2 separate regions of the Homo sapiens genome follow, and region 2 is linked to region 1. Evidence: fine-mapped expression QTL. Tissue or cell type: cerebellar hemisphere. Region 1 holds a variant in brackets; the other region holds the start of a gene. All regions are shown on one strand. Distances are from middle to middle.

Region 1 (8,100 bases):
TTAACCTCTAATGAAACGTAAGTCCTCTATAGTGTGAAATTGAGGGATGCTAAAGAAGATCTAAATATGCTGACAGAAATTTCTTATTCATGAATTAAAGGCAGTATGGCAAAGATACCAGTTCTGCTCAAATTGACTTGTAGATTCAATGTAATTCCATAAAAATTTCAGCCTTTTTAGCCTGTTTATCTGATTCTAGAATGTATATGGACAGGCTTTGAATACAAAAAGCAAGATAGGTGGACTTGCTATACTATATATCAAGATTTATTAGGAAAATAGAATAATTATAACACTGATAATGATACCAGAATGGTCAGTAGATAGAAAGCCTAGTAGTAAACACCCAAGCTTATATAGACATTTCCATGAAAGAAGTGCTGTGGCTGATCAGAAGGGAAATTAATGACTTTTAATAAATTATTTTGAGTAGTCATTTGGAAAAAAAGGAAATTAGACTGGTACTTCTCACCAGCTCCCCCATCCCCACCATCTGTTTTTTGTGTTAAAGTCCTAGGTGTGAAAGGCAAACCTGTAGTGCTTTTTAAAAAGAATATAGAATATCTCCATAGCTTTAGGAAAGGATTTTTTTCAACTAGACACAAAAACCATTAGCTGTAAAGGAAAAGATTTATACATTTGACTACATTAAAATTAAGAGCTTCTGTCATCAAAATACAATTTCTTAAAAAGGTGAAAAAATCAGAATGTGACAAGATACTCTCTGTTCCTCTACATTTATTTCTGCAGTACAAAAAAGTTTACATGTGATTGGCACATATGTAGAAAATGACATGAATTTAACTCAGGTTATACTAGTTTCTATGCCATTTTCCTCAGCAAGCTAATGTTTTTTATCATCAAATAGCTACAAGTAAATAAAATAAAAGAACACAACTGAATATTGCAGCTGAGGAAGAATATGGCAGTGTATATGATACCTATACACTTCAATTTATCCTCTTTTCTGTTTGACCATGTGTTCTGTTTTAAAAATCTTTATTGCACTATTTGCCCTATCTTCATTATTTAGTAGCCTAACACTTTCTTATACCCGTTTCTGTCAAGCCACCTTTTCTTTTCATTCCTTTCATTTTCTTAAAAGACCAGTATTTTATTTACTCTGTTATTTTTAATTGGGAATTTAACATGTCTTTTAAACTGTATTAATATTTTAAATTAGGACCATTATTTATTTTGTTAGTGTTCTAGTTACAAAGTTGCAAAGGTTTTGAGAAGTCAACCATGACTCTATTTTCTTCATAATCTCTCTTATTATGGGTGCATGATTTTTCAGAAAGTACTATTTCAAGAAAACATATTTCACAGAAATCCCCCATTTGCAATACATATGTCTGACAATGGATCACAGTACTTCATCAATACTAAGACAGTTATTTCACATTTTAACATCTCTACAGTTGGGAAGCATCTTAGAATAGATGAAATCTTTCAATTATAATTGCCAGGGTTTTTTCTTTCTTAGAGATAAAATAATGATGCAGTTTAGAAGGGGTTGGTTACTTAGATTTGATGATTTACTATAATATTCAGAATATAAAGAATTATAAATCAATTTTATTTTATTTTTTATTATACTTTAAGTTCTGGAATACATGTGCAGAATGTGCAGGTTTGTTGCATAGGTATGCATGTGCCATGGTGGTTTGCTGCACCCATCAACCTATCATCTAGATTTTAAGCCTCACATGCATTAGGTATTTGTCCTAGTGCTCTTTCACCCCTTGCCCCCCACACCCCGACAGACCCCAGTGTGTGATGTTGCCCTCCCTGTGTCCATGTGTTCTCATTGTTCAACTCCCACTTATGAGTGAGAACATGTGGTGTTTGGTTTTCTGTTCCTGTGTTAGTTTGCTGAGAATGATGGTTTCTAGCTTCACCCATGTCCTTGCAAAGGACATGAACTCATCCCTTTTTATGGCTGGATAGTATTCCATGGTGTCCCTGTGCCACATTTTCTTTATCCATTCTATCATTGATGGGCACTTGGGTTGGTTCCAAGTCTTTGCTATTGTGAATAGTGCTGCAATAAACATACATGTGCATGTGTCTTTATAGTAGAAGGATTTATAATCTTTTGAGTATATACCCAGTAATGGAATTGCTGGGTCAAATGGTATTTCTAGTTCTAGATCCTTGAGGAATCGCCACAGTGTCTTCCACAATGGTTGAACTAATTTACACTCCCACTAACAGTGTAAAAACGTTCCTATTTCTCCACATCCTCTCCAGCATCTGTCATTTCCTGACTTTTTAATAATCGCCATTCTAACTGATGTGAGATGGTGTCTTGTTGTGGTTTTGATTTGCATCTCTGTAATGACCAGTGATGATGAGCTTTTTTTCATATGTTTGTTGGCCACATAAATGTCTTCTTTTGAGAAGTGTCTGTTCATATCCTTCGCCCAATTTTTGATGGGGTAGTTTGTTTTTTTCATGTAAATTTGTTTAAGTTCCTTGTAGATTCTGGATATCATACCTTTGTCAGATGGATAGAATGCAAAAATTTTCTCCCATTCTATAGGTTGCCTGTTCACTCTGATGATAGTTTCTTTTGCTGTGCAGAAGCTCTTTAGTTTAATTAGATACCATTTGTCAATTTTGGCTTTTGTTGCTATTGTTTTTGGTGTTTTAGTCATGAAGTCTTTGCCCATGCCTACGTCCTGAATGGTATTGCCTAGGTTTTCTTCTAGGGTTTTTATGGTTTTAGGTCTTACGTTTAAGTCTTTAATCCATCTTGAATTAATTTTTGTGTAAGGTGTAAGGAAGGAGTCCAGTTTCAGTTTTCTGCATATGGCTAGCCAGTTTTCACAACACCATTTATTAAATAGGGAATCCTTTCCCCATTTCTTGTTTTTGTCAGGTTTGTTGAAGATTAGATGGTTATAGATATGTGGTGTCATGTCTGAGGCCTCTGTTCCATTCCATTGTTCTATGTATCGGTTTTGGTACCAATACCATATTGTTTTGGTTACTTTACCCTTGTAGTATAGTTTGAAGACAGGTGGTGTGACGCCTCCAGCTTTGTTCCTTTTGCTTAGGATTGTCTTGGCTATATGAGGTCTTTTTGTTTCCATATGAAATTTAAAGTAGTTTTTTCTAGTTATGTGAAGAAAGTTAATGGTAGCTTGATGGGGATAGCATTGAATCTATAAATTACTTTGGGCAGTGTGGCCATTTTCACAATATCGGTTTTTCCTATTCATGAGCATGGAATGTTTTTCCATTTGTTTGTGTCCTCTCGTATTTCCTTGAGCAGTGGTTTGTAGTTCTCCTTGAAGAGGTCCTTCATGTCCCTTGTAAGTTGGATTCCTAGGTATTTTATTCTCTTTGTAGCAATTGTGCATGGGAGTTCACTCATGATTTGGCTCTCTGTTTGCCTATCATTGGTGTATAGGAATGCTTGTGATTTTTGCACATTGATTTTTGTATCCTGAGACTTTCCTGAAGTTGCTTATCAGCTTAAGGAGTTTTTGGGCTGAGAAGATGGGGTTTTCTAAATATACAACCATGTCATCTGCAAACAGAGAAAAATTGACTTCCTCTCTTCCTATTTGAATACCCTTTATTTCTTTCTCTTGCCTAATTGCCCTGGCCAGAACTTCCAATACTACGTTGAATAGGAGTGGTGAGAGAGGGGATCCTTTTCTTGTGCCAGTTTTCAAAGAGAATGCTTCCAGCTTTTGTCCATTCAGTATGATATTGGCTGTGGGTTTGTCATAAATAGCTCTTATTATTTTGAGATATGTTCCATCAATGCCCAGTTTATTGAGAGTTTT[T/C]AGCATGAAGGTGTATTGAATATTATTGAAGGCCTTTTCTGCATCTATTGAGATAATCATGTGGTTTTTGTCATTTGTTCTGTTTATGTGATGGATTATGTTTATTGATTTGCATATGTTGAACCAGCGTTGCATCCCAGGCATGAAGCCAACTGGATCGTGGTGGATGAGCTTTTCTATGTGCTGCTGGATTCAGTTTGCCAGTATTTTATTGAGGTTTTTCGCATCGATGTTCATTAGGGATATTGACCTGAAACTTTCTTTTTTTGTTGTGTTCTGCCAGGTTTTGGTATCAGGATGATGCTGGACTCATAAAATGAGTTAGGGAGGAGTCCCTCTTTTTCTATTGTTTGGAAGAGTTTCAAAAGGAATGGTACCAGCTCCTCTTTGTACCTCTGGTAGAATTTGGCTGTGAATCCCTCTGATCCTGTGCTTTTTTTGGTTGGTAGGCTATTAATTACTGCCTCAATTTCAGAACTTGTTACTGGTCTATTCAGGAGTTCGACTTCTTCCTGGTTTAGTCTTGGGAGGATGTATGTGTCCAGGAATTTATCCATTTCTTCTAGATTTTCTAGTTTATTTGTATAGAGGCATTTATGGTATTCTCTGAAGGTAGTTTGTATTTCTGTGGGATCAGTGGTGATATCCCCTTTATCATTTTTTATTGCATTTATTTGATTCTTCTCTCTTTTCTTCTTTTTTATTCTGGCTAGTTGCCTGTTTTGTTAATCTTTTCAAAAAACCAGCTCCTGGATTCATTGATTTTTTGGAGGGTGTTTCATGTCTCTATCATCTTCAGTTCTGCTTTGATCTTGGTTATTTCTTCTGTTCTGCTAGCTTTTTTTTTTTGAGACAGAGTCTCACTCTGTCACCCAGGCTGGAGTGCAGTGGCACAATCTCGGCTCACTGCAAGCTCCGCCTCCTGGGTTCACACCATTCTCCTGCCTCAGCCTCCCAAGTAGCTGGGACTACAGGTGCCCGCCACTACACCCTGCTAATTTTTTGTATTTTTAGTAGAGACAGGGTTTCACCGTTTTAGCCAGGATGGTCTCGATCTCCTGACCTCGTGATCTGCCTGCCTCAGCCTCCCAAAGTGCTGGGATTACAGGCGTGAGCCATTGCACCCAGCCCTGTTCGGCTAGCTTTTGAATTTGTTTGCTCTTGCTTCTCTAGTTCTTTTAATTGTGACATTAGGTTGTCTATTTTAGATCTTTCCAGTTTTCCGATGTGGGCATTCAGTGCTATAAGCTTCCGTCTAAACACTGCTTTAGCTGTGTCCCAGAGATTCTGGTACATTTTGTCTTTGTTCTCATTGGTTTCAAAGAACATCTTTATTTCTTCCTTAATTTCGTTATTTACCCAGTAGTCATTCAGGAGCAGGTTTTTCAGTTTCTAAGTAGTTGTGCAGTTTTGGGTGAGTTTCTTAATCCTGAGTTCCAATTTGATTGCACTGTGGTCCGAGAGAGCGTTTGTTATGATTTCCGTTCTTTTGCATTTGCTGAGGAGTGTTTTATTTCCAATTATGTGGTTGATTTTAGAATAAGTGTGATGTGCTGAGAAGAATGTATATTCTGTTGATTTGGGGTGAATAGTTCAGTAGATGTCTATTAGGTCTGCTTGGTCCAGAGCTGAGTTCAAATCCTAAATATCCTTGTTAATTTTCTGTCTTGTTGATTTGCCTAATATTGACAGTGGGGTGTTATAGTCTCCCACTATTATTGTGTGGGAATCTAAGTCTCTTTGTAGGTCTCTAAGAACTTGCTTTATGAATCTGGGTGCTCCTGTATTGGGTGCATACATATTTGGGATAGTTAGCTCTTGTTGCATGGATCCCTTTACCATTATGTAATGCCCTTCTTTGTCTCTTTTGATCTTTGTTGGTTTAAAGTCTGTTTTATCAGAGACTAAGATTGCAACCCCTGCCTTTTTTTTTCTTTCCATTTGCTTGGTAAATATTCCTCCATCCATTTATTTTGAGCCTGTGTGTGTCTCTTTGCACATGAGATGGGTCTCCTGAATACAGCACACCAAAAGGTCTTGACTCCTTTATCCAATTTGCCAGTCTGTGTCTTTTAATTGGGGTATTCAGCCCATTTACATTTAAGGTTAATATTGTTATGTATTAATTATATCCTGTCATCATGATGCTAGCTGGTTATTTTGCACATTAGTCGATGCAGTTTCTTCATAGGGTTGTTGGTCTTTATATTTTGGTATGTCTTTGCAGTGGCTGGTACCAATTTTTCCTTTCCATATTTAATGCTTCCTTCAGGAGTAAGGCAGGCCTGTTGGTGACAAAATCCCTCAGCATTTGCTTGTCTGTAAAGGATTTTATTTCTCCCTCACTTCTGAAGCTTAGTTTGGATAGATTTGAAATTCTGGGTTGAAAATCCTTTTCTTTAAGAATGTTGAATATTGGTCGCCTACTCTCTTCTGGCTTGAAGGGTTTCTGCAGAGATCTGCTGTGAGTCTGATGGGCTTCCTTTGTAGGTAGTCTGACCTTTCTCTCTGGCTGCCCTTAACATTTTTTCCTTCATTTCAACCTTAGAGAATCTGACGATCATGTGTCTTGTGATTGCTTTTCCCAAGGAGTATCTTAGTAGTGTTCTCTATATTTCCTGAATTTGAAAGTTGGCCTCTCTTGCTAGGTTGCGGAGGTTCTCCTGGATAATATCCTGAAGTGTGTTTTCCAACTTGGTCCCATTCTCCCTGTCACTTTCAGGTATACCAGTCAATCATAGGTTTGGCCTTTTCACATAGTCTCATATTTCTTGGAAGCTTTGTTTGTTCCTTTTCATTCTTTTTTCTCTAATTTTGTCTTTATGCTTTATTTCATTAAGTTGATCTTCAGTCTCTGATATCCGTTCTTCCACTTGATTGATTTGCTTATTGATACTTGTATATACTTCATGAAGTTCTCGTGCTGTGTTTTTCAGCTCCATCAGGTCATTTATGTTTTTCTCTAAACTGGTTATTCTAGTTAGCAGTTCCTGTAACCTTTTATCAATGCTCTTAGCTTCCTTGCATTGGGTTAGAAGATGGTCCTTTAGCTCAGAGGAGTTTGTTATTACCCACCTCCTGAAGCCTACTTCTGTCAATTCATCAAACTCATTCTCTGTCCAGTTTTGTGCCCTTGTCAGAGAGGAGTTGTGATTATTTGGAGGAGAAGAAGCATTCTGGTTTTTGGAATTTTCAGCATTTTTGTACTGGTTTTTCCTCATCTTTGTGGATTTATCTACCTTTGATCTTTGATGCTGATGGCCTTTGGATGGGGTTTTTGGGTGAGCGTCCTTTTGGTTAATGTTCATGTTATTGCTTTCTGTTTGTTAGTTTCCCTTCTAATAGTCAGGCCCCTCTTCTGCAGGTCTGCTGGAGTTTGCTAGAGGTCCACTCCAGACCCTGTTTGCCTGGTATCACCAGCAGAGGCTGCAGAACAGCAAAGATTGCTGCCTGCTCCTTCCTCTGGAAACTTCCTCCCAGAGGGGCACCCACCTGATGCCAGCCAGAGCTCTCCTGTATGAGGTGTCTGTTGACTCCTACTGGGAGGTGTCTCCCGGTCAGAAGGCATGGGGGTCAGGGACCCACTTGAGGAGGCAGTCTGTCCCTTAGCAGAGCTTGAGCAGTGTGCTGGGAGATCTGCTGCTCTCTTCAGAGTCGGCAGGCAGGAACATTTAAGTTACTGAAGCTGCACCCACAGCTGCCCCTTCCCCCAGGTGCTCTGTCCCAGGGAGATGAGAGTTTTATCTATAAGCCCCTGACTGGGGCTGCTGCCTTTCTTTCAGAGATGCCCTGCCCAGTGAGGAGGAATCTAGAGAGGCAGTCTGGCCACAGCCGTTTTTCTGCGCTGCAGTGAGTTCCACACAGTCCGAACTTCCTGGCGGCTTCCTTAACACTGTGAGGGGAAAACCACCTACTCAAGTCTCTGCCATGGTGGATGCCCCTCCCCCCACCAAGCTCGATCATCCCAGGTGGACTTCAGACTGCTGTGCTGGCACTGAGAATTTCAAGCCAGTGGTTCTTAGCTTGCTGGGCTCTGTGGGAGTGGGACCCACTGACCAAGACCACTTGGCTCCCTGGCTTCAGCCCCCTTTGCAGGGAAGTGAACAGTTCTGTCTCACTGGAGTACAAAAAAAAACTCCTGCAGCTAGCTCAATGTCTGCCCAAACAGCCGCCTCGTTTCGTGCTTGAAACCCAGGGCCCTGGTGGTGTAGGCACACGAGGGAATTTCCTGGTCTGCAGGTTGCAAAAGCTGTGGGAAAAGCATAGTATTTGGGCCAGGTAGCACAGTCCCTCATGGCTT
Region 2 (5,679 bases), 190 kb after region 1:
CACACTTCCTACCCTTAGGCCTATGAACACACATAGGTTAACAAATAACTTTGATATCATGCACTAAAAGGAAGGTATGTATTAAATGACATGGAAAAGAGTGAAGGAAATCAGGCAGGGCGCGGTGGCTCATGCCTCATGCCTATAATCCCAGCACTTTGGGAGGCTGAGGCAGGTGGATCACGAGGTCAGGAGATCGAGACCATCCTGGCTAACATGGTGAAACCCCGTCTCTACTAAAAAAAAAAAGTACAAAAAATTAGCTGGGCATGGTGGCGGGCCCCTGTAGTCCCAACTACTCGGGAGGCTGAGGCAGGAGAATGGTGTGAACCCAGGAGGCGGAGCTGGCAGTGAGCCGAGATCGCTCCACTGCACTCCAACCAGGGTGACAGAGCGAGACTCTGTCTCAAAAAAAAAAAAAAAAAGGGTGAAGGAAATCTTTAAATTGGCTAGGGGAAGAAGGTTAGATAACAAGGCTAGAGATCACAAAACAAGATCAAACTCCACTTCTATGCTGTTTCCATTACACCATACTTACTATCAGTGATGTTTAGCAGCTCACAAAAAAATAACAGGACAGGCTTTAGAGAATCACAAAATAAAATCTGGAGACTTATTCATCCTAACCCCATCTCCCACTAATATAAATAATCAAGGACTATACCAAATTGTGAAAAGTTAGTCGGCTACTTGTTGTTCAAGTAGCTTTCTATTGATTGGCCTATTTAACAGAACAGATAATATTAAGTTGTATTCACCCAGTTTTTTTAAGTATTAATGAAGGGTCTGCTGCAATACTTTTTGAAAGGTAATGCAAAAACAAGAATCAGCTGGCATTTATCAGCACTTTGCAAGGAAGTGAGGCCCTGAATCCATAAGATTTAAGTAAGTATTAAAGTCGCAGAGAGTTATATTCTTTTGAGGGCCAAGGATGGTTCTTTAGGCTTTTCCACATCTCAAGACTATCCAATTACATTTGGTTACCAAGCAACCATTCCATGATGAATTTGTACCAGCATCCCCAAATGGCTTAACCCCACAACTCTGACTTTGGAATATCAGAAGATAATTTAACCCTCTCCTCCCCTATTATAAGTTAATAAACTGGCATTCTGAATTATATAACAGTTTTTGGTCACTTGGTTAGTATAAAATAAGAATCCTCTCAGTTCTAAGAGCTGTGTAGAAAAAAGTTTAAGAACCTGAAAAACTTAAAACCATACTCTAGGCCGGGCGCGGTGGCTCACGCCTGTAATCCCAGCACTTTGGGAGTCGGAGGTGAGCAGATCACAAGGTCAGGAGATCGAGACCATCCTGGCTAACACAGTGAAACCCCGTCTCTACTAAAAATACAAAAAATTAGCCGGGCGTGGTGGTGGGCGCCTGTAGTCCCAGCTACTCTGGAGGTTGAGGCAGGAAAATGGCGTGAACCCAGGAGGCGGAGCTTGCAGTGGGCCAAGATCACGCCACTGCACTCCAGCCTGGACGACAGAGTGAGACTCTGTCTCAAAAACAAAACAAAACAAAAAAACAAACAAAAACACATACTCTAAGCCAGTGATTGAATAAAATGGGGGACCATAGGCTGGATTCAGGCCACAAATGGATTTTATTTGGCTTGCAAAGGAGGAGGAGGAAGAGAAGGAAGAGTCTCTTAAAAATCCGACACAAAATGCACAATATATTTCATATAAAAATGTGTATTTCCAGCTTCTCTTGAAAAATCTGAAACTCTGGCAATATTTGGACCTGCACTGCCAAGTGGTAAAAACTAGCCAGAGCTAAGTAACCCCAGCCCTATTTATATGGGACATTTGCTCTCTAATTCATCATAGAACAACTCACTCCTTTCTGTTTTCCTGATAGTGAGGCCAAAAATCAAGTGTCACTTCTCATTATGCTTGCACTGCTTTTCTTATAACCTTCAAAGATTAAAGAATGCCATACTGGTAGTTAAATGCAGAGTTTACCAGGTAAGTACAATTCCACTCTTCATATTAATGCAGTGAAACATAGGCGGAATCAAAGAAATCAATTTACCTTAATCTGAGTCTGTTCGATTGACTTTTCCCATATCTGCTGATCGTAGGCTCCAATCTGAAAGAGGGAGTAGTCTATTAGTTAAACGATGCAAAGGAAATCCTTACATTATTAAGTCAAGCCTCATAAAAGTCATGAGCCTATTAAGTATCAATATGCTATGTGGAAAATATGCTTCTCAAAAGTTAGAATAAATCAATACTTCGAAGGACTGTTTCCTTCAAAAATCTAAAATAGCTGGACCTAAAAGTAAGTTCAAAAGCAATGCCCAAAATATTTCAAATTAATATTACCTTAAAAGATATTTCCACTTCTTGGGCGGGCATGGTGGCTCACGCCTGTAGTTTGAGACCAGCCTGACCAACATGGTGAAACCCCGTCCCTACTAAAAATACAAAAAATTAGCCGGGCGTGGTGGTGGGCGCCTGTGATCCCAGCTACTCCAGAGGCTGAGCCCGGGAGGCGGAGCTTGCAGTGAGCCGAGGTCGCGCCATCGCCCTCCAGCCTGGGCAACAAGAGCGAAACTCCGTCTCAAAAAAAAAAAAAAAAAAAAAAAATCCACTTCTTAAGGAAAAGAGCACTAGAAAAACTAGAGAGGAATAAAAGATAAGGAACAGCTCAATAAGATTGTTGATAGTATCAATCTGAGCTGTGCACATACAGGTTTCATGTCTTTTTTGTTTTTAAGCAGTTTGATCAGAAGCAAACTTTCAAAGCATTGCGGTGGCATTGTGTATGCAGCCTGAAGGAGGTGGCTTGTAAACCTTATTCTGGGACCTGGAACCGGGTTTAAAAGACATAATGACCTTGTACATCTTTTTTTTTTTTTTTTCATTTATGTTGAAGTATACATGAACACCTGGCACTACTAAACTCGGGGGAAAGTAACATTATATTATTTGTGGGAGCTTTTTGCAGGAAGAATGCTTTACAAATAAAAAAAATATATATATGTATTACCTTCTTTTGGTACCACGATATAGCATCTCTCTCATTTGAGGCCATCTGTGTCTCCAGCCAGAGAATGGGATTTCACTGAAAATGAAGGAAAACCAATCGGTGAGTCCAGCTGCTGAAGGTTACTCTCCCAGTTTGGGTAGGACGCGAAAACCGCTTCTCTCAGCCTCTCCATGAGCTGCTCTTTCTCCAGCTGTTTGCCAGGGAAAACACAACAAACAAACAAAAAAAAACTGGCGCAGCGGCGACCGGAGAAGCCTCTGCAATATATCGGGCGAGCGTGTTCGTGGGTGCGGGGGAGGGGCAGGGGCCGCCGCTGGAGTCGCCCGGCACCCGCCTCCTTCGCTCGCCCGCGTCCGGCTCTCACCTAGTGCCCGTTGCCCCGCGGGCCGGCGCCCGGGACCTCCGTCCTCAGTGCCCGGGGTCCCACCGTGAGGCCGGGGGCGAGGCGGCGGGCCAGGCAGGCCGCATCTTCCCCTCCAGGCGGAGACGCCGGAGAGGCCGTTACCATGGAGACCGCGGAGGCCGCCCCAGCTTCGGAGGCAGCCGGCCGCCCAGCGCCCTGAGGGCGGCAAATCGATCGCCGGTCAGAGGCCGCCTACAGGGTCACGGACTGACCAGAAAATAAGCAGAGAATGAACTGGAAAATGAGGGGGATTAAAAGTGAAGGCCTCCAGTCGCCACGGCGACAGCAAAAGGCTTTGTGCCCAGCTGGAAAAGACAGGTGCAAAGGCCCCGGACCCCGAGAGCCCGGGAGCCCGGGAGGAGGAGGCGGCGGCAGCGGCGCTCGTCTTCTGCGGGCCGCGCCGGGATGCAGTGACTCAGCCGTCTGAGATCTGGGCTAGAGCCGCTCAGCCGACCACCGGGCAGCAGCCTTCGGCTTCCGCTTTCCGGCTTTCGCCGCCGAGGTGGCTCCGCCCCTGGCCCGGGGCCTTCCCGCCCAGCCTTGGTCCAGGCTCCGGGTCCGAGGGCCTGGGGAGTCGCGCGGCATATCGATGGCCAAGAGCAGCTCCCTCAGATCACCCTTCAGGCCTCAGCTTAAAAGTCACTTCCTCACAAACGACTCTCCCATCCAGCGGTCTAAAGGAGGTCGGTCCTGATACTCTAGTAGCTCACGTCTTTGTGGCACTCATTTTCGTGTTTCATGGCTTAATCTCTGTTCCCCAGTGGGCTGTGGGCTCCATGAGGTCAGAGACTGGGGCCTGGCACAAGCCTGGCACTTAGGTTCCCAATGTTTGTTGAGCGAACGAATCAATGTTTGCGTGAATTTACGCTGCCCTGGGAGGAAGGGCCAGGCTGCGGCTTAGTGACTCCCTTCCTCTCCCGCCCCTCAGCAGCTCTGGGTCTGGAGCTTTCTAGTGCTCAAAGGTGTAGGGGGAAAAGAGGAACAAGTATTGGGCAGTCACAGCTTTTTCCAAATTAGGGTAAAGTTAGGTGGCGGCAGGAACAGGTTAATTAGGGCCGATAGAGGTCAGGAGAAAGGAAAGAAAGGTTGAACCCTCAAGTGAATATTTAAGGATACGTTAAAAGGATTTTTAGGCTGCTTTTTTTTTTTTTTTTTTTTTGGCCATTAATGGAACACTGTCCCCTTACAGCCATTCTCCCCACCTTATTTGAAGCCGTGTTCTTGCTAGCCCACAGCGTGTAGCATCTGGGTCAGAGAAAGCTAATGACAGATGATAGCTTCACTTAAGAAAGCCTAAGAGGCGCTGTACTCAATGTTTTGCAGACATTATTTCTTCTTATCTATTGAGTGGGCACCAGGTGGAAGTTATCCCATTTCACGGATGAGGAAAATCGACTAAGCTAAAATAACTCCCACAGGACTAAGTTTTACAAATTACTTCACCCAGCCTGGGCGCAGTGGCTCACGCCTGCAATCTGGGCGCTTTGGGAGGCCTGAGGCGGAAATGTAGCTTGAGCACAGGAGTTTGAGACCAGCCTTAGCAACATGGCCAGACCCCGTCTCTTAAAAAAAAAAAATTAGCCGGGGGTGGTGGCGCGCACCTGTAGTCCCAGCTACTTCGAAGACTGAGGCAGGAGGATCGTCTGAGTCCACGAGTTCGAGGCTGTAGTGAGCTATGATTGCACCACTGCACTTCGGCCTAGGCAACAGAGACCTGTCTCAAATAAAGTAAAAATTATTTTACCCTTATTTTTATATTGCACACATTGGCAGTGGTTTCCTTCTGCTTTTGCTCCTTGACAGCTTTTCCTTTCCTTAGTGCTAAACATTACAATTCTGTTGAGCTTCAAGACAAATGGCCAACTTGAAAAAAGAGATAAATGACAAGTGAAAAACGTCGAATTTTGCACACGTAAATATTTAACCTCAATTACATTAATAGCAAAAGTACTTTACTTCACTGTTTGGCACACAGATTTTCAGGGAGTGTCTGGAGGAACTGAATCAGGTAAGAAGTATTAGAGAATAGTGGTAAGTAGTAAACCATTTTTCAGGTGCCCTGTTGGAAACTATTCAGTGCTTCCTGCGGCTACCAGCGAACAAGGTCTGAATCCTTGCTCCCAACCAATAATCTGTGATCTTAAGCAATTTATTCAACTAACAAGCCTGTTTTCTCACCTGTATTATGGAGATAGTCACCTTCTTAAGGATGTGAGGATTAAATGAGAAACCCTCATATAAACTGCCTGGCCCATGGCAGTTACTCAAAAAATGTG

Which allele goes with the higher level. Alleles are on the strand shown, and positions count from the first base shown. SD is a standard deviation of normalised expression in the study named.
For the expression in cerebellar hemisphere of the gene that starts at base 3,828 in region 2, allele T in region 1 goes with a higher level than allele C (moderate effect, 0.44 SD a copy in GTEx).

The links. PIP is the estimated chance that this variant, and not a neighbour inherited with it, causes the effect.
Region 2: it holds the start of PHTF1, and the variant in region 1 is fine-mapped to the expression of PHTF1 in cerebellar hemisphere (GTEx, PIP 0.95).

The regions. Positions count from the first base shown.
Region 1 is chr1:113,568,295-113,576,394 of GRCh38, forward strand. The region is part of intron 2 of MAGI3 (membrane associated guanylate kinase, WW and PDZ domain containing 3); the gene reads left to right. Among named protein-coding and RNA genes, the nearest start is that of MAGI3, 180 kb to the left of the region's middle. The variant T/C (reference allele first, on the strand shown) is at 3,801.
Region 2 is chr1:113,755,659-113,761,337 of GRCh38, forward strand. PHTF1 (putative homeodomain transcription factor 1) reads right to left here and starts at 3,828. Exons shown (of 19, transcript NM_001323043.2): 1 at 3,365-3,828; 2 at 3,001-3,075; 3 at 2,041-2,097. The coding sequence starts at 3,045. RefSeq lists enhancers at 867-1,422, 3,701-4,280 and silencers at 2,468-2,597, 3,231-3,550.